Regions from separate parts of the Homo sapiens genome. Here all the other regions are linked to region 3. Evidence: fine-mapped expression QTL. A gene starts in region 3. Each other region holds a variant in brackets. All regions are shown on one strand. Distances are between the middles of the regions.

The links. PIP is the estimated chance that this variant, and not a neighbour inherited with it, causes the effect.
Region 1: its variant is the best candidate, but not a certain one, in a credible set for the expression of NMD3 in iPS cells (iPSCORE, PIP 0.57).
Region 2: its variant is the best candidate, but not a certain one, in a credible set for the expression of NMD3 in tibial artery (GTEx, PIP 0.61).

Annotation. Positions count from the first base shown.
Region 1 is chr3:161,317,318-161,322,984 of GRCh38, forward strand. No RefSeq gene overlaps it. Among named protein-coding and RNA genes, the nearest start is that of SPTSSB, 51 kb to the right of the region's middle. The variant TG/T (reference allele first, on the strand shown) is at 1,969.
Region 2 is chr3:161,076,460-161,085,981 of GRCh38, forward strand. B3GALNT1 (beta-1,3-N-acetylgalactosaminyltransferase 1 (Globoside blood group)) reads right to left here. Exons shown (of 5, transcript NM_003781.4): 5 at 7,424-9,522. The coding sequence ends at 9,300. PPM1L (protein phosphatase, Mg2+/Mn2+ dependent 1L) reads left to right here. Exons shown (of 4, transcript NM_139245.4): 4 at 1-2,443. Among named protein-coding and RNA genes, the nearest start is that of B3GALNT1, 24 kb to the right of the region's middle. The variant A/G (reference allele first, on the strand shown) is at 6,879.
Region 3 is chr3:161,218,318-161,223,317 of GRCh38, forward strand. NMD3 (NMD3 ribosome export adaptor) reads left to right here and starts at 2,994. Exons shown (of 16, transcript NM_015938.5): 1 at 2,994-3,092; 2 at 3,677-3,740. The coding sequence starts at 3,697. It also overlaps the pseudogene SRP14P5. RefSeq lists enhancers at 2,567-2,676, 2,736-3,237 and a silencer at 3,157-3,356.

The sequences.
Region 1 (5,667 bases), 99 kb after region 3:
TCCAGAGTAGCTGGGACTACAGGTGCGCACCACTGAGCCCAACTAATCTTTTGTTATTGATCTTTGTAGATAAGGATAATTTTTTTTCAAAACAATTATGTAATCTTCCTAATTTTTTCCTTTAAAAATCTTTGTCTTCCTTTACCTCCCTGAATATACACATAGTTTACTATGGCAGACGTATTCCCATTGCAATTCTCTATTCTCAAATAAACATCATTTTTTCTAATAGAGCCTCTCTTAATTTGTTATTTAGGTTGACATTCTGAATCTTTCAACATTCATTCATTCAACTTTTTTTACACCAGGCACTGTTTCAAGAGCAGTGAACAAATAGATAAAATTAGAACAAATGCCCTCATGAAGCTTACATTTTAGTGAATATCAAAACGTATGAGATTCTTACGTCAGACATTATTCTAAATGCTTGGTATGTTTTCTTCTCACAACAACCCCTTGAGTTAGATACTATATTCCCAGCTTACAAATGAAGAAAGTGAGACAGAGAAAGAAGATATAATTTGCTGATCTCACAGCTAGTAAGTAGCAGGGCTGGAATTAGAACCCAGATAAACCAGCTTCATTTATTTTAACTGCTATGGTACTCTTGCTAAACTTTTAGGCAGGGTTTTGGGAGGGTGGCAAGACACTAGAGTTGCGAAGGCTGCTTGCGGCAGTTTTACAGAGAACTTCATGCCCCAGATAGGTCAGGGTAGGAGTGGAAAGACCCTGAAATTCCAGGGTCCTCCACTGTGGATGATAAATGTCTCAGAGGCAGCCTACCTTTCCCTGAATGTCTTCCACTGCCTGAGTCTGAGACAGCAGCTTGACCAGAGGGGAAGAGCCCTGAGGTCTGAGGTTGTGTTTCCTCCCTGCTTAGCAGGATGTGCACTCAAAATAGAAATTAGACTGTGTTAAAATAATAGAGATAATAAAATAGAAAGAATTGTTAAAGTAAGATGAAATTGCGGGGCACAGTGACACATACCTGTAGTTCCAGCTCCTCAGGAGGCAGAGGCAGGAGGAACACTTGAGCCCAGAAGTTTGAGTCCAGCCAGGGCAACATAGTGTGAGACCCCACGTCTCTTAAAAAAAAAAAAAAAAAAGATAAAACAGAATAATTTCTTTTTTCAACTCTGAGTTTGCTGATTAAGATCCTCCGGGAAGCATGGGATTAGAGAGCTATGTGTGGATAGTCCCAATCTCAATCTCACATTTCTCCCTCTAGTATTATGGCATTGTTAAAGGAGGATCTAGGATTTCAATGTTGCTAAAGATGAAAGCTTAATCAAATAAGACTATTAACTCCTTTTTACAGAGAAATTAGTTTGAATTTACATGACTGTGGCAGACTATGTAACTGTCAACATGTCACTAAAAAATACATGTACACTCTATGGATGTGGACCAAGATGGTGGACTAGAAAGCTCCACTAATTTCTCCCCCTGCAAGGATACCTAATTAACAACTATCTGCATGGAAAAATCACTTTAATGAGAACCAAAAATTAGATGAGCACTCGCAGTACCTAGTTTTAACCTCATGTCTCTGAAAGAGGCACTGAAGAGGTAGAAAAAACAGCCTTGAATTGCCAACACCTGGCCTGCCCCATCTCCTAGCAGTGGTGGCATGGTACTGAGAGCCTTTCTGTGAGCTAGGGAAAGGGGAACACAGAAATTGTGAGGCACTAAACTCAGTCTTGCTCTGTTATAGCAGAAAGAAAAACTGTACCAAACTCAGCTGATGCCTGCCCATGGAGGAAGCATTTAAATCAGCCATAGCCAGAGGGGAATCACTGATCCCAGTGGCTAGAACTTGAGTTCCACAAGCCCCACCACTGTGGGCTAAAGTGTTCTGTGGCTCTACATAAGCTTGAAAGGCAGTCTAGGACACGAGGACTGCAACACCTAGGGAAGTCCTAGGACTGAACTGAGCCCAGGTCAGTGGACTGGGCGGGGGAAGTGGGG[TG/T]GGGGGGGGGGCATGTGACATACTGAGATACCAGCTGGAACAGCCAAAAGAGTGCTGGCATCACCCTTCCCCTAAACCCACGCTGCACAACTTGCAGCTCCAAAATAAACACCTTTCTTCCACTTGAGGAGAGGAGTGGGAAGAGTGAGGAAGACTTGCATCTTGGATGCCAGCTCAGCCACAGCAGGATAGGGCACCAGTTAGAGGTGTGAGGTCCCCTTTCCAGGCCCTAGCTGCCTGATGACATTTCTAGACACACCCTGGGCCAGAAGGGAATCCACTGCCTTGAAGGGAAGGACTCAGCCATGGCAGGATTCACCACCTGCTAACTGAAGAGCCTATGGGCCCTGAATAACCAGCAGCAATGCTCAGGTAATATTAATACATCCAGGGCCTTGAGTGAGCCTCTGAGACTTGCTGACTTCAGGTGATACTCAGCACATTCCCAACTGTGGTGCCTATTGGGTGAGACTCCTTCTGCTTGAGAAAATAGAAGGAAATGTAAAGGGGACTTTGCCTTGCACTTTGAATACCAGTTTGGCCACAGCAGGGTAGAGTACCCAGAGGGGTCTTGAGGTCCCTGATTCTAGGATTTGCCTATTGGATGGCATTTCTGGACCTGCCCTGGGCAGAGGGGAGCCCGCTACCCTGAAGGGTGAGGCTGATGCCAGGCAGCATTCACCACAAGCTGACTGAAGAGCCCTTGGGCCTTAAGGAAACATCAGTGGCAATCTGGCTGTACTCTCTGTGGGCCTGTGGTAGTAGTAGCTATGAGGTAAGGCTCGTCTGCCTTTGCAAAGGAGAAGGAAAAGTGGGAAGAACTGTGTCTTGTGGTTTGAGTGCCAGCTTAGCTGCAGTACAATAGAACACCAGTTATATTTCTAAGGTTTTTGACTGTGGTCCCTGGCTCCTGGATGGCACATCTGGACCTTCTCAGGGACTACGGGAACTTACTGCCCTGAAGGGAAGGATACAGGCTTGGCAGCCTTTGCCATTATGGATTGTAGAGCCCAAGGGCCTTGAGTGAACATAGACAGTAACCAGGGAGTGGCTAGAGTAGGCCTTGAGTGAAACACAATGCTGTGCTGCTTAAAGTCTGATGAGGCACAGTTTTAATGGTGGTGGCCACAAGGGTGCCTGTGACATGTCACCTCCAGTTCCAAGTGGATCAGAACAGAGAGAGACCCAGTGTCTTTGGGAGAAAGTAAGAGAAAAGAGCAAGAGTCTCTGCCTGATGATCCAGAAAATTATTCTGGATCTTTTCTAAGACCAGCAAGTTGGTACCTCGACAAATCTGCAAGAACCACAGCCTTACTGGGCTTGGGGTGCCCCCTAAAACAGATACAGCTTAGTTCACAACACCCAAGTCCTTTCAAATATCTGGAAAGCCTTCCCAAGAAGGATGGGTACAAACAAGCCCAGGCTGTGAAGACTACAATAAACACCTAATTCTTCAATACCCAGCCACAGATGGACATCTACAAGTATCAAAACCATCCAGGAAAACATGGCCTCACCAAATGAACTAAATAAAGCATCAGGGAACCAGTCCTGGAGTAACAGATATATGACCCTTCAGATAGAGAATTCAAAATAGCTGCGTTGAGAAAACTCAAAGAAATTCAAGATAACATAGAGAAGGAATTTAGAATTTTATTAGATAAGTTTAACAAAAATATTGAAATAATTAAAAAGAATCAGGCAGAAATTCTGGAGTTGAAAAATGCATTGGGCATACTGAAGAATGCATCAGAATCCTTTAATAACATAATTTGTCAAGCAGAAGAAAGAATTTGTGAGCTTGAAGACATGCTAAATAAAAATACACAGACTGAGGAGGCAAAAGAAAAAAGATTAACAAACAATAAAGCACACCTACAAGATCTAGAAAATGGCCTTAAAACAAAATCTAAGAATTATCTCCTTAAAGAGGAGGTAGAGAAAGAGATAAGGGTAGCAATTTTCTTCAAAGGGATAATAACAGATAACTTCCCAAACCTAGATAAAGATACCAATATCCAAGTACAAGAAGGTTATAGAACACCAAGTAGATTTAACCCAGAGAAGACTACCTCAAGGCTTTTAATAATCAAACTCCCGAAAGGTCAAGGACAAAGAAAGGAGGCAGCAAGAGAAAAGAAACAAATAACATACAAGGAGCTCCAATACGTCTGGCAACAGACTTTTTAGTGGAAACCTTAAAGGATAGGAGAGAGTGATATGACTTATTTAAAGTGCTGAAGGTATAAAAATTTTTCTGTAGAATACTATATCCAGTAAAAATATCCTTCAAACATGAAGAAATACAGATTTTCCCAGACAAACAAAAGCTGTGGGATTTCATCAATACCAAATCTGTCTAACAAGAAATGCTAAAGGGAGCACTGGAATCAAAGAAAAGGATGTTAATGAGCAATAAGAAATCACCGGAAGGTACAAAACTCACTGGTAATTGTAAGTACAAAGAAAAACACAGAATATTATAACACTGTAACTGTGGTATAAACTACCCTTATCTTAAGTAGAAAGGCTAAACAGCTAATCAATCAAAAATAATAACTAAAATAACTTTTCAGAACATAGTACAATAAGATACAAATAGAAACAACAAAAAGTTAAAAAGTGGGGGAATAAAGTTATAGCATATAGCTTTTATTAGCTTTCTTTTTGCTTGCTTGTTTATGCAAACAGTATGTTATCAGGTTTAAAAAATGGGTTATAAGACAGTATTTGCAAGCCTCACGGTAAACTCAAGCCAGAAAACACACAAAGAATACACAAAAAAATTAAAAAGCAAAAGAAACTAAATTATGTAGCCAGAGAAAATCACCTTCGCTAAAAGGAAAACAGAAAGAAAAAGAAAGAAGGAAGAGAAGATCACAAAACAATGAGAATATAAACAACAAAATGGCAGGATAAGTCCTTACTTATCAACAACAATATTGAATGCAAATGGACTAAACTCTCCAATCAAAAGACATGGAGTGGCCGAATGGATAAAAAACATCAACAGCAACAACAACAACAAACAACCACCACCAAAAAATAAGACCCAATTACCTGTTGCCTTCAAGAAATACACATCACCTATAAAGACACACAGACTGAAAACAAAGGGATGGAAAGAGATATTCCATGCCAGTGGAAACCAAAAAACAGCAGAAGTAGCTATACTTATATCAGACAAAATAGATTTAAAGAGAAAAACTATAAGAGGCAAAGAAGGTTACTATATTATGATAAAGGGGTTAATTCAGCAAGAAGATATAACAATTATATATGCACCCAACACTGGATCACCCAGGTATATAAAGCAAATTTTATTAGAGCTAAAGAGAGAGATAGACCCTAATACAATAATAACTTGAGACTTCAATACCCCACTTTCAGCACTGGACTGATCTGCATACAGAAAATCAACAAAGAAACATTGGACTTAATCTGTACTATAGACATAATTGATATTTATAGGACATTTTATCCAGTGGCTACAGAATACACATTATTTTCCTCAGCACATGGCACATGCTTCTCTTCAGGAGATGTAACTACTCTTGACTCCAAGTAAGTGTTTCAATAACACCCTGTGCAGATTTCAAGCACTAAATTTAATTCATGTTATTGTCATTATCTATATGTCTATTTACCAAACCGGATATTGGCCTTTTCATGTCATTTTAGTATCTTCTGTCTTTGTA
Region 2 (9,522 bases), 140 kb before region 3:
TATGACCATGGAGAAAACCCATAACTTTTGCTTCTATTATAGAAAGCAGTGTTTGTTCTTTTTAATTTATTACATGTTCACATTGAAACATTAACATCTACAATATTGTCTTTCAGTTTACTCTTCAATTACTAAAGCAAATGATTTTGATTTATAGCACTTACACAACTGCAGTTCAGGTCACAGAATTGAAATCTATTTGATAATGTCTCAGCATTCTCATGGGCAGCCAGGAAAAAAAAAAAGAGAGAGAAAGACAAATAGAAATTTTAGTGGGTTCAGATAAATGATTATTCTGACAAACCTGGAAAATAGTAATTAAACAGTTCATTCCAAAAGACCCCAATGTAAACTCTGCTCACATACATAATTTGTATAAGGAAAATGTATGAGTTTTTTTCTTAAAAATAAATAGAAGCATCATTGCATTTATAACAGATTGATCAATCTTATGAACAGATTACATTGGGAAAGTCACTATTATTGCTGTGTGTTTGTATATTTTATTCTTTCCTTTTTTGTGTGAGCATCTACTATGTGCCAGGCAGTGACTGTGTCTGAGTGAATGTATCCATGGTGAGCACTCAGGCGCCATCACTGCCTTCTTGGGGCTTACACCCTATTGGGGTGTCAGAGATATTATAACACTCAATATTGACCCAATGGGATGAAAATTGTTATCTTCATGATTTCTTCCAATGGGCTTAGATTTGTTGGGACAGGGCAGAATTAGAATAATTATTTCTCACATATAAGAGTAAGTGATATGAGATTGGGAATTTCTTGCCAACACTCAAGCAAACTGCAGAAGATAATTACTCCATTTTACTAGCTCACCTAGTTTCTGAAGGATGGGGTGGGGAGTGAGACATGGAGCCTCTGGGGACAAGGATAGGGGGGTGGGACTGTCCCAGTGGAGGGTGCCACTGGAAGCCTCCACCCAAGTGGGCCAGCAGCTGTGCAAGGGTGCAGCAGTAGGCTGGTGAAAGCCAGGTTGTCCAGATCTTTCTAGGGGAAGAGAAGGATTATAGAAAAGGAGAAAAGGGAGGAGCAAGAACATCTCTCCATGGCCTATTTTTATTTTTGTTCCCAAGAGACTAGTGTAATAACCTTATGCCCCCAAAGACAGCCCAGAACTGAGTATCTTCAGTGTTCCTGAGTGTAAATCAGTGAATCTGTTATATAGAAAGTTAACATTTCAGGAGCACAATTATTTCCTGATTTCAAATATGAACAGAAGACTAAATGTCATTTTTTTAAATCATAAATTTGGTATCCATAGTTACTTTACACATTCCAGAGTCTAAGCATGGAATTTAAGTTTTGTATTTTGAACAAAAATAGCAACATCTGTTTTCTGTATGGCAAAGAAAAACTAAATCCCAGACTTTTATTTTTAACCACAGAAACCATCACTTCTTTCTAAATTATTTGCTTGCCTGCTCATTTCCCCTAAACATCTCTGTTTATGCCAATGGCTTTTTAAATCCAAATAATACTAGTTATTGCCAAATTGCATTAGAATCCTATTGAATTAGAATAATTCATATACTTCATATACTAGGCAGTAAATGGTTAGAGACGGTAAAGATCTGATTGTGATCAAAAGTAGGGTTTTTGTTTTGTTTTTAATCATGAGCACATATAAAAGGAAATTCAAATGAAACCAAGCCAATTTCTGATTTAGTAAGATTAAAACCATAGATGGAGCTCAGTTATTAAGGATGGAAAGGAGGAAAGCACAGAGTGAGGAGAGAAAAAGGGGAAGGAAAAAAAGTAGTGTTTTTTTGGGGAACAGTATAATGTCTCAGAAGTTCTTCTCTCTTATCCTGCTGATGTTGAGACAGTGGCTTTGTATAAGCTTTTATTTATACCTATTTCAACATCATGAAAATTTTTCCATCAGCATTTTCTTGCAACTTTAAAAATCACAAGGGATTATTTGTTTATAAAGAGATACAGGATCTATAATTTATTGGCAATACTTTATTTTAGGAATCTTCAAATTGTACTTAATAAATAAATCACAGGTCAAAATGACTGTAAAATCAATCAGGCTTTCTCGTAAGTTATTTCCTGAAAACCATCCATGATAAATACAACAAGGCTTGGCGAAACCTCATTACTCTTGGAAGTCTTCAGAGGTTATTATACCTACTGATCTGTATTTGTCTCTAAGAGACATTTGAAACACAGTTACAATGTCAATTTGGTGTAACATTACCTGTAGTAGAGCTCAGAGTATATGGCAGTGCACGGTCACTCAAGATGCATGGCGTGTCATTTGGGTCGCTTTGATGGGTGCTCGGGTAGAATTAGCCTTGTAGAGACTAATGTGTTCATGCTATCTCTGATCCTGTGGTGTTGTATAAAAATGAACAGCTAAAAATTTACCCATGACAAGATTAAAGCAAAAATAAACACAAAGTTGTTAGACTTTAAACATGAGACTGCTGGTATTCTTTTAAGTTAAACTCATTTTCCATTCTAACATCTGTTCTTGAATTTTATAATTTCTCTATGCTTTTGAGTTGGAGTAGCTTGAGCTAGGGTTCTATGTGGAAAGCAAAGAAACAATTCATGGGTAGAGGATAAGACCAAAGCCTAACAGAAGCAAGAGGCAGGAGGTTTTGAGACTTTGGTGCTTTCATTTGGAATGGGAATAAGCCTGGCTCTGGTTCAAAACAAGGCAATTTATAAACATATATACAATGTATGCAACAAAAAATGTTTATTGTAAACCTAACACAACTTTTACCCAGCTTTATAGTAACACATCGACAAAGTTTATATAGTAATTACTATAAGGTAACAAGGGTTACATTATACACAGATGTAGGCTCCAGCAACACAGCATGATGCACCTCTGAGAAAAGTGTTCAGAACAGAATATCCATCTGCAAAGGTTTTCACTCAATGCAGGAAGAAATACTGTAAAATTTGGAGACAGAATGAAATAGAGGTAAACTCTCTCCAGGATTCTAGACTCTGAAGAGTGGGTAGTACTCATGGCTTAGGCCATATTGTAGTAACACGGTGACTTGGACTAACCATGTAGATGGAGTTCGTGGATTAGACAATTCTCAGAATTTTCTAGAAAAAGTTGGGGCCAGACATAGTGGCTCTCACCTGTAATACCTATACTTTGGGAGGCCAAAGCAGAAGGATCACTTGAGCTCAGGAGTTTGAGACCAGCCTGGTCAACACAGTGAGACCCCATCTCTTAAAAAGAATAATTTTTTTTAAAAAAAAAGGGGAAAGAAAAGGAGTTTGTTACGCAGACGAAACAATTGCCTACTCTACCTGCTTTCAAATTCAAGTCTGATAAATATAAAAGTTCATTTCTACCTATAAAATGCTTTTTTAAAAAATTATCTTGTTTATATGCTAAGGTTCACTAAAGGAGAAAAAAAAGGAAGTGCAAAAGTTTTAAAGGTACATATAAAAAGGGATTCACTACAAAAGTGAAGTTAAATTTCTCTCCTAATCCTACTATTCATTGAGCTATGAGATAGAGTGAACTATCACTTGATTTGTGAACACCAAATTAACCTCTACCTATAGTTTTTCAACTGTTCTTCTCCTGAAACCGTGAAAGACTTTTTAAAATAAATCAATCACAGCAGCCTTGAGGGATGGGAGAACTGCAAGATCTGTGTCCAGAGAAACAGTCATTGCAATGTGAATTTACCAGAAGTCAGAAATTTTCCACCTTTTCATTTGTGAAGAGGGCAGAGTGAATGTTGTTAACATCAGGCCCAGAACCTACTTTGTGCCAGGTTCATAAAGTAAACCTTCCCTGATGCTGTTCAGTGAGTAAGCAGTAAAAGGCAAGCAAATGTGACCCTGTCCTCTCTCCTCGTTCAAATGGGAAGACCTGGCTCCATATTGTGATGGCTTCATTAGTGAGAGATGTGTACACTCTTCAGGTTTGTAACCAGGATGCTGTGCCCCTTTCCGTGCTCCCAGCAGATAGGAATTCAGACTCTGCTGCCTGAAATGGAAGGTAATCACCTATTGAGGAGCAAGGAAGAGAGGAACAGAAGGCATTTTTTAATTTCCGCTATCCCCAATCCATCAGTGTGGGCTGCTCACTCAGGCTGGGATCCATTCTCCAACAAGATGCATCCCAGAGCATGGAGCTCCTGTGTCACGGACAAGCTGCTTTCTATCTGCCTCATAGGAAATTGGGTTTATCTCTTCACTTCGGCCCCGCTCATCATTGGCGCTGACCCTCAGGAAGAGGAAAACTGTTTCGTATGTTCCTAAACTTTGGATGCCCTCAGCTGTAACAGACCACTGCACCCACCATGGTGGTGAACTCACATATGCAGGGGCAAGAAGTCTGTGGTCACAGGGTTGGTTCAGTGGCTCAATGATGCCATCAAGAGCCAGGGTCTCCACCTCAGCCACTGCCCTGGCCTTTAGGCTGTTCTCATGGGACCCACACGGTTGCTTCAGATACTATCATTGCAGACACAACATCTGGCCAAAGAAAAGAATTTCTCCTTTGTCTTTATTAGAAAGGAATACCCCCAGAAGCCCACCAGCAGACATCGCCTGGGGTCCCACTGGCTGGGATTGGTTCACATGTCAAAGCATGAGGGGCAACAAAGGCTGGTAAAGGGCAGTGGCAGCCTGAGCAACATAGTAAGCCCCATCTCTACAAAGTTTTTGAATAATTAGCCAGGTGTGGTGGCACACGCCTGTAGTCCCAGATACTTGGGGGGTGCTGAGGTGGATCACTTGGACCCAAAAGCTCGAGGCTGTAGTAAAGCTATGATCGTGCCACTGTATTCCAGCCTGAGCGACAGAGCGAGACCGTCTTAAACAACAAAAGTGACTGAGGATGGGAGGCAGCCCCTGCCTGCACAGAAGAAAGCGGGATGGTGGGCACGTGAGGCTGGGGGCTTACCGGCAAACACAGCATTTGGCCTGCACCGCAGCAGCCTTTGCTCATAACATTTTGATGCCACTTTTTACCTTTACCTAAATTTGTTAATGTATTTGTTAAAACATCTGTGTTATAAAAATGATTTATCCTCATTGTTGAGAATGTAATAAAAGGTACTTTTAAAGTAGGAAGAAATCTTTTGAGAGGCATTTTCTGTTCAAATTTTGTTATATTTTCATCCTGTTTCTGTAGTTTGTACATATGTTGCAAGAGAGGGAAGAGTGGCATTTAGAACCATCACAGCAGCTGCTGCAACCTTTTAAAAGAATGACAAAATTTATCTTTAGAGAAGTTGATTTCCTTTTATCTGGGAAATGCCTTGAATGAGTTTTTTTGGGGGGAGTGTGGGGGGGGAGAAATGTTAAGCAGCATTCACCCCTGCCTTGCTTCCCACATGGTCTGAAAGGAGAAAGTGAAACAGAAAGAGGGCTAAGTGGAAAGGAGTTTTGGAAATTACTCGTTGATAACCTCAAGCAGGGGTAAGGCCCGGCATGTATAGAGGAGTGGCCAGATGTGAGGAGAGAAGTCTTGGCCCCGGGGCCACAGACAATGGGAAATTTCCTTGGTGAGAAATGTTTTAATTATCGTAAGAAAGCATCCCCAAAGTTGGCAGCATTAGGCAAAAATTATTTCTTACATTTCTGGTTTACAGGGCCTAAATTGGGGTCTGTTGCAGAGTTGTCTGGCATTGTCTGAAGGCTCCCTCTCCCTTTCAGACACTGAGTGTGGCAGCTTACAGTACGACTGCACTCAGTTTTTCATTCCCCATTCTGTGGAACAATACATTCCTGCATGCTGCAACATCACTTGCAGTTACTTCCTGCAAGAGAAATATACTTCCCCACCTCAGTGACACTGGGCTTGGCAAGGGATTCATCTCAGCCAGTGGATGTATTAATATATGCCACTGTGCTTCCACCAGCTTTTTAATTTCCTTCTATAAGAACAGCATGTTCCAAACGGGCTGCCCATCAGCCTGGATCCTGGAATGAAAAAGACATAGAGCAGGGTTGCAGCCAACCACTGCCATGCAACTGAGTGAAAACATTGGTTGTCATCAAGTCTGAGATTTGGGCGTTACTGTAGCATTTGTGACCCTTAGCAAAGCTAACTAATGTGCTAAAAGTCACAAACTCAACACCTGCAGACAAGGAAAGCAAGTGAGGCAGAGGGTGTGTGAAACTATGGGGATGGCAGGGCTAAGGCAGATGGGACCAAATCAGCCCAAGGATAAGCTCCAGTATTAAACGTTGTTATATGAGTTAAAATTTTTAAAGCTGCTGATTTGGTTAAACACCAGGTCATGATTTTAATAACACAGCTAATATTTACTTCCTGAAAGCTTAATATAGTTGAAAACAAAAAATATAATGACCCAATCTCTTAATGTTTTCCTAATCATTTAACTTTGTAGGTTCTTTTAGGCACCAATCTTCAGTTCAAAAGAAACAATCTTCTGAAACTTGTTTGTTTTTTTTTTGTTTTTTGGTCTTTTCTAAAAGTGAAAGGGAATTATTTTTTATGTTAAAAGTTCTCTCTAGAAATGTTTTGAGTTAGCTTCCCAAACATCGATATACAGAAATGTGGCACTTAGCAATGGAGATACATTCTGAGAAATAGGTGATTTTGTCGTTGTGCAAACATTAGAGTGTACTTACACAAACGTAGATGGCATAGCCTACTATACACCTAGGCTACATGGTAGAGCCTATCGCTTCTAGGCTATAAACCTGTACAGAATGTTACTGTACTGAATACTTACTGTTGGAAACTGTCACACAATGGTACTGGTGTATCTAAAATAGAAAAAGCACAGTAAAAAAAACCAAACAGTATAAAAGATAAAAAATAGTACACCTGTATAGGGAGGGCACTTACCATTAATAGAGCTTGCAGGGGTGGAAGTTGCTCTGTGTGAGTCACT[A/G]AGTGAGTGGTGGGTGAATGTGAAGGCCTCAAACATTACTGTGCACTACTGTAGACTTTACAAACATGGCACATTTAAAGTAGGCCACACTAAATTCATTTAACAATTTTCTTTCTTCAGTAATTAACCTTAACTCACCGTAACTTAACTTTACAAACTTTCAAACTTTGACTCTTTTGTCAAAGTTTTTTGACACTTAGCTTAAATTTAAAACACAAACATCTTGTAAAACTGCACAAAAATATCTTTATATCCTTATTCTGTAAGTTTTTTCCTATTTTAAACTTTATTTTTCTACTTTTTAAACTTTGTTAAAAACTTAAGACACAAACACACACATTAGCCTAGGCCCACAGGGTCAGGATCATCAGTATCACTGTCTTCTATCACCACATCTTGTCTCACTGGAAGGTCTTCAGGAGAAATAGCATGAATGGAGCTGTCATCTCCTATGATAACAATGCTTTCTTCTGGAATACCTCCTGAAGGACCTGCCCAAGGCTCTATTAAACATTTTTTTAATAAGTAGGAATAGAACACTCTAATTATAAAAAGTAAATACACAAACCGGTGTCATTTATTGTCATTATCAGTATTACATACTGTACATAACTGAATGTGCTGTACTTTTATACAACTGGCAGTGTAGTAGGTTTGTTTACACCAGCATCTCCACAGACACGTGAGTAATGCACTAGGCTATGACATTAAAACGGCTAAAACATCATGAGGCAATAGATTTTCTGCTCCATTATAATTTTATGGGACCACTATTGTATATGTCATTATGCAGTACATAACTGTAATCTTCTGCAAAACCAGTCAAATCTAACCATGCCACAAAAATAACTACCACCATCTGTCTTAAAGAACGTGACTCCTATATGGATGGAGATTAACAAGGGCATAGATCGATTCTATAGAATATTTCATTTAATTGATTTTATTATAACTGGATTAGGTCTGAGCCCTGGGAAACAGACATCACCTTGTTATACAGAATCACACATTATAGTTTTAACTGAAGTTGTTTTTCATATAGGACAATCATAAATATGAGTATTACAAGAGCTGACTACATACTTTCAAGTTTATATTTCCTGACAAAGGATATGACCTTTTTCCATCCTGTAATTCAGAGAAAAAGAACCACTTGCCCTATATAAACTCTAAAAAGAAAACTGCATAAACCCAGGAACAGGGGGCAAGGAGTGCTCCCCTTTGACCTACTATTAGCAGGTCCAACAAATGATATATCACCACGTCTATGAAGAAATTTCTTTCTATAAAAGCACAAAATTTAAATCGGATTTGACTTTACATATTAGGGCTTTCATCTTGATGAGAAACTCATAACAGCAGCAGCTCAAACTGATTGTTAAAAGGAAAAAACACAGGGCAGATTAATAATGCAACTTGGATCTTCACTCTTCTCTTTCCAATTCAAATGCTGGAATATGACACTCTTTTTATAATATTCTGCCCATGAGGTTCTCTCCCTTCTTTTCTGCCTTCAGAGTCCTTTCCAAAAGGAAATTACTGCCTTGCATTCTACATTATTCCTAATTTCCAGGTGGAAAAATGAGACAAATTAAGTGACTTCTAAAAACACTAGGAACTGTATTTTTTAAAAACAAGACAATACTTCAGATTTTCTTGCTTTAATTCTTCTCTATATTACCACAGTAAAATATTTAACAAAGTCCAAGAGATTACTGATATGCAATAATGACCTATGACTTTACATTAATGGAGTGATGTATCAATAATAAACTGATCAGTTAAGTAACTGGAAAATGTTTGCATGTAAAGAATGATTCACTATCCTTTTTATCTTGTATTGAAATCGTCAAAACATTTAAAAACACAAAGTTGAAGTAATTTTAAATAATAATAACTGTGAAATACTGCAACATCTTGAAGTACTTTATAAATGACCAAAAACAGGTAAAATTTTGTTCAGTATAACTTCAGTGAAGAAGTTTTTTGACACAGAACTACATATATTTTTAAATTGGTAATCCACATAAGATATACACAAAACCTTCAAGTGACTACATTGTTCAATAAATAAAACTCTACATTGTTTTGTTTTTACAGCCTAGTGAGCTTATAACTCAGTAACACCCTTTTAAGAAATTCTAGTCTACAGAATGACATGTCCAAATTGTTTGGTCCTATTAATTTCTTTAGCAAAAACCTCCAATTCCTTTATATTTAATTCCTCCACATATCATCTTTGAAGGGCCTGACTAATAAATCACAAGTGTAACCCTCCAGTCTCCAGTCTGGGTTTTTCATGAGTTTCAGTTCAGTGTAAGCCAGCACACTGACCTCCCCATGAATTTTCCACAGTACCTACTTTATTTAACACTTTCCACAAAGTATCCTGTCCTTCTAGGCTTTTTGTAGAATGTGAAGTTAATAATGGCATGTGGTGTTCCTTAGCATGACCTGCCAAAAAGTGATGATCTCCTTGGAAGAAAAGCCATGGGCTGCAATCACACGTCTCAGTTGACAGACATCCAAATGGATTCTATATAGAAAGAAAAGATTTGTGTCTTCTGGAATATGAATGTTCACTTTTAATAAATTCAAACAGATCCCGACATAAACATCTTCAAACTTGATGGGTTTTACGTGA
Region 3 (5,000 bases):
CATTATGTTCGGCCAGGAATTCCATTTTAATACCATGGTTAAACACATAGAAATGAAGTTTGTAAACATATACTAAGGCTTAGATTTGAATACAGATAGATATCCTCAGTGCAAGGACTATGGGAGCTGAAAATAATCTCACCTATTATTTTCAGGTGAGATTTGAGGTTAAATAAAAAGTGCAAAGTGAGTTTCCCTCTGGTATTGTTTGCCAATATTATCCCACTCAGTCCAATCCTAGCAAGCTCATTCAGGCTCATGAGAGAGGTAGTTGAAATCAAGAACTTACTTTTGACATCTGGAAATCTTAGTGGTGGGGGCTGGCAGATGAAGAGAGAAATATAGGTGCCTTCTACTACAGAAGTATTTCATTTATCAAAAGGTTGTGGATAGGAATAGACGGCCTCAGCCTCAGAAGGGGAGGTAGGCTGCTATGGTGAGGGTCTGGGTTCAGAAACAAACTGTATTTCACGTCCCAGTTCTATCAATTATTTGCTATAGGACTTTCAACAAATTGCCTAATCTAATCCAGCCTCATCTGTAATATGTAAGGTCCATGAGGGCAGGGACCATATCTGTGCTGTTATTATCATACATCAAGTGCTTAAGAAGCCTGGTATTCAGAGCCAAATCAAATAATTGTAGAAGGAATGTGTTAAAAAATGAGCAGCCTTTGACATTTAGAAGCTGGTCTGGTACTTGCAGCTATGCCATAATATTTTCCTATTAGACAGAAATAATTTCACAGAATACTAAACTCAGACAAGATTACTCTGAAACCATGATAAAATGAGGCAAAGAAGGTCACTTCATAATTTTGTCTAAGCACAGACCAAAATAAGTTCACTATGCCACCCACAAAATACCAAACATTCCCTTTCTTCACCAAAATGAGTGACTGCTACTTCTTTGCTAATTGCAGCTTTATCCTCCTGCTTCCCTTTGTGTAAATAAGATTTACTGAGACATCCAATCACAGAATTGCCCCTGCTTTCTGACAGCATCCAATCTATAGAAAAACCTCTATTTTCTTAGGGCCTCCCCGAAAACACCCGCCCAAAGCCCCAATCCTATGATAGGTTTGTTCTAAACACCCTCTTACTGAGATACCCAAAGGGTATCCATGGTGAGTGTCTGGGCTCACTTCGAAGAGTAATAAATAGACAGAAGCTGCTTAACTACAGCTGTGTTCCTAGTGGTGTTTGGTTGAGGGCATAGGCAGTGTGAATAGAAAAAACGGGGAGAAAAACACTGTCTCTTCAGAGTTGTGGTGGGTATTAAATGGATAATTAATTTACCAATATATATTGAGGGTCTGTTTTGTGTCAGCTGCTGTGCTAGGTGCACCAAGAAGAACAAGACCCGAATTGCTCTCCAGGGTTTTGAAACTGCTGGGCATGCAGAGTAGAAAATTTATGATCCAATTCAAAGCACTATTATAGAGGCATATACCTCGTATAAAGGTGTTATCATAGAACCATATATACAGAAGGAGCATGTAACTCCTCTGGCCCTTAGGGACCGAAGGAGTCAGAAAAGAGAGGATGTATGGTGGACAGGATAATGGCTCTGCAAAGATGTCCTATTCCCTGAAATCTGTGAATATATTACCTAACATGGCAAACGAACTTTACAGATGTGATTAAATTTCTTGAGATGGAGAGATTATTCTGGATTATTTGGTTGGGCCCAGTGAAATCACAAGTGTCCTTGTAAGAGGGGTGCGGGGGGGTGGGGGTGAGAAAAGGAGACTCTGACTGCAAAATGATGTGGGACCACAAGCCAAGGAATGTGGGCAGCGTGTAGAAGTTGGAAAGGGCCAGGGAATGGATTTTCTCCTGGAGCCTCCAGAGTCAGCCCTCACCATCTATTTAGACCTGTAGCTTCCAGAACTGGAAGAGAACAAATTTGTGTTTTCTAAGCCAACTAAATCAGTGATAATTTGTTAGAGCAGCACTAGGAAACTAATTCAGGCTTAATCTTTAGTGCCGAGTCCCGGGTAGAAGCAAAGGAAGACTATTTTCTGTGAGGACCTGCCAGTTGGTCTTCATGGCTTGCGAGTACGTGTGCTTGGGAGTAGGACAGGATATGTGGAGATCAGATCCTGAAAGGTCTTCTTTCCACACAAAGAAACTGGAAATAATGCTGAAGGTAATCAGAGGCCACTGAAGGATTAAAAGCAGGGGAGTGTGACAAAATCAGAACTGCATTTCAGAAGGATGAATTGAAGTCTACAAGTAGAGACAACAGACGAGAGGCTACTTAAGTATTCTGGGCAAGAAATGATGAGAGGCTGTCTCTGATCACCCTCTACAAAACGCCTTTGCTTATTCCTTGAAATTTGGGATGAGAGGATTTAGAAAAAAAAATGGTTGTACTCTTCAAATATTTGAAAGGCTGTCATGAGACAGATTAGACACGGTCTGTGCTGCTCCAAGTTTGAGGGATAAATCAGTCATAAGAAGATATTAAATGCACTATCCGGAAGCACATAATTAATAATTTGTCTAAAAATCGCATAGACTTCTTCACAGATAATTATGCTTTACATTTCATTCTTTCAACAAATAATCATTTGAGCAGTTAGCATGTGGCAGGCATCAGGCCTGTATATGACGGTGAACCAAACAGACAAAAGGCACTGCCCTGGATGGAGTTTCTTTGCATAAGGTACCGTTTACAGATAACTTTTATATAAAATAATCATTTAATCAAGAAGCAAGCTCACAGTCGGGATAGCTGAAAAGAGACTAATATACGGGCGAGGTTGGTTTGGAGTAAACCCTGGCCTGGGAAAATCGAGACGATAACTGAAAAGCAGTCACTGACGGCAAATGAGCCCCTGGGACTTCTCTCCGCGAGCTTTCCCAGCCACCAGGCCGCTCCCATCACCCTTCCGCCCGTCGGTGCCGCCCCTTTCCTCGTCCCCACCCCGTCCCTTTTAATACGTCACTCGGGCCGCGGGATTTCGAGCATTTCGCTCGCGAGATCTTCTCTGTGGCGGAGACAGCCAGGTTGGCAGCTGACGGGACAGCCGGGGTCTATTTTGTTGCGGGTTTTCAGCAAATCCAGGGCTGGTCTGGAGGCGCGAAGTAGGTTCCGGAGTCCGAGACCTGGGCTGTCGGCCGCGGGCCCCTGAGTAGCGGATGGGGCGGGCTCCCCGGCCTCGGGGCCGTGCTCAGTCTGCGTGAGCGCCGCGTGCCCGGAACCCGTGTGCGGTCGCGCCCCGGGGTTGGGGGTCGGCGTGGGTGGCCCTCGGGCGCCGGGACGCCGTCCGGAGACTCCTGTGGCGTGGGTCTGAGGCGCGGTGGTCCGGTGCGGTCCCTGGGCTGGTGGAGAGCGGGAGGGCCCGGGCGTCCACAATCCCGAGCTGACCTCGCCCTTGGTCGTCCAGGGTTGGAGCCCAGGTGAGATGGAGGTCAGCGGCAGAGCTGGGTGGCCCGAGGGTCTTGCAGCTGGGAAGCTCAGGAAATCCCATGGTCCTCATCTTAAAGTTCTTTTTAACGAACTTACCCAGTGGAGTTGGGTTTCCTTCTTTCCTGCTTTTTCGAAGTTCTGTGAATATATTAATTATTCAGAGAGACTGGAGGAAGACGTAAAAAGAGGAGACTAGGTAAAGTGATTTAAATCCCAACATTCTCTTTTTTTTTTTTTTTTTTTTTTTTTTTTTTAAAAGAACTTAAGGCATACAGAACGATGGAGTATATGGCAGAATCCACCGACCGCAGCCCTGGACACATGTGAGTGCGACACTTCTTCCTTCCCCCTTAAATGTGAAAATCTTCAGTGAGCCCGGGAAACTCACTATGGAGAACGCTTGAGGGTGGGTGGGAAAGAGCGTATATTGTCATAAATGGGAAAAAATAGAAGTCTTATTTCTGTAGAAAATCGAATTAGTTTCTGGTTATAAAGCTTGTTCTAGTAAATATAAGCTCTAAGAGGGTTAAAATATTTACCATACATCCTTTTAGATCGGCACTGTCCAATATGTAGCCATTAGCTACGTGTGGCTATTTAAATTTACTTTTTACTTACTTTTTTTTTTTGAGACGGAATCTCGCTCTGTTGCCCAGGCTGGAGTGCAGTAGTGTGATCTCGGCTCACTGCAACCTCCACCTCCCGGGTTCAAGCAATTCCCTGCCTCAGCCTCCCGAGTAGCTCGGATGACTTCCTGATTTTTATTGGAGATTATAATGTAGTAATTTTTAAATTTTGAACATCTTAAATCTTAGTTATCAATTTTTAATTTCTTGCATTTAAGTTCAAATTAACTTTTTTTTTTTTGCTGTTAAATAGGTTTAATGATACAGTGCTCTTCAAAGAGATTACTACAGAGACTTTTAAACGATAATCCTGGAATCGTTCAGCACAGACCAATTAGCTAAATCTAAAATAAATTGGCTTCTTACCACAACTACCCTGTAAACATTGTAGTCCTTCTGTCTAGAATGACCCTAATCTCACAGGAAAACAGTAACTATGGAGAAACTAGCTTTGTGGCCAAAAGTAAAAACCAAAGGAAAAATAGGAATTCAGTGGTTAGTGAAAGCAGGAAATTTGGCCCCCTTCCCTGTGATGCTTTACTCTTCCCTTGTCCATCAGTTAGCTCAGTGGGTTTGAATAAGCCATCTGAAAATGTCTTTGGAGCTCAGCATAGTGCTGATCTTCCTTGTTCTATCAGTAGCTTTTAACAGACACTTGTCTAAGGGCTCAAAGCCCTTCACAGAACCCTTTCTTGGAATGGGTTGTTTGACCATTATACTTCCCTCCGGACAACCAGCACTTCTGGAAGAGCCTGGTTAGCTCTGTCAGGAACTGCTTTCTTTCCAGGTGGTACCGCTGGCTCCACTCTGTCAACATAAACCCCAAGCAGTTTAAGTTGGAAGTTTCCTAAATTAATTTAAATGGAATAAAATTAAATACTTGGTTGCTCGTTTGTACTAGCCATGTTGCCACATGTGGCTAGTGGCTACCATTGGACATGGAAGATTATTGAACTT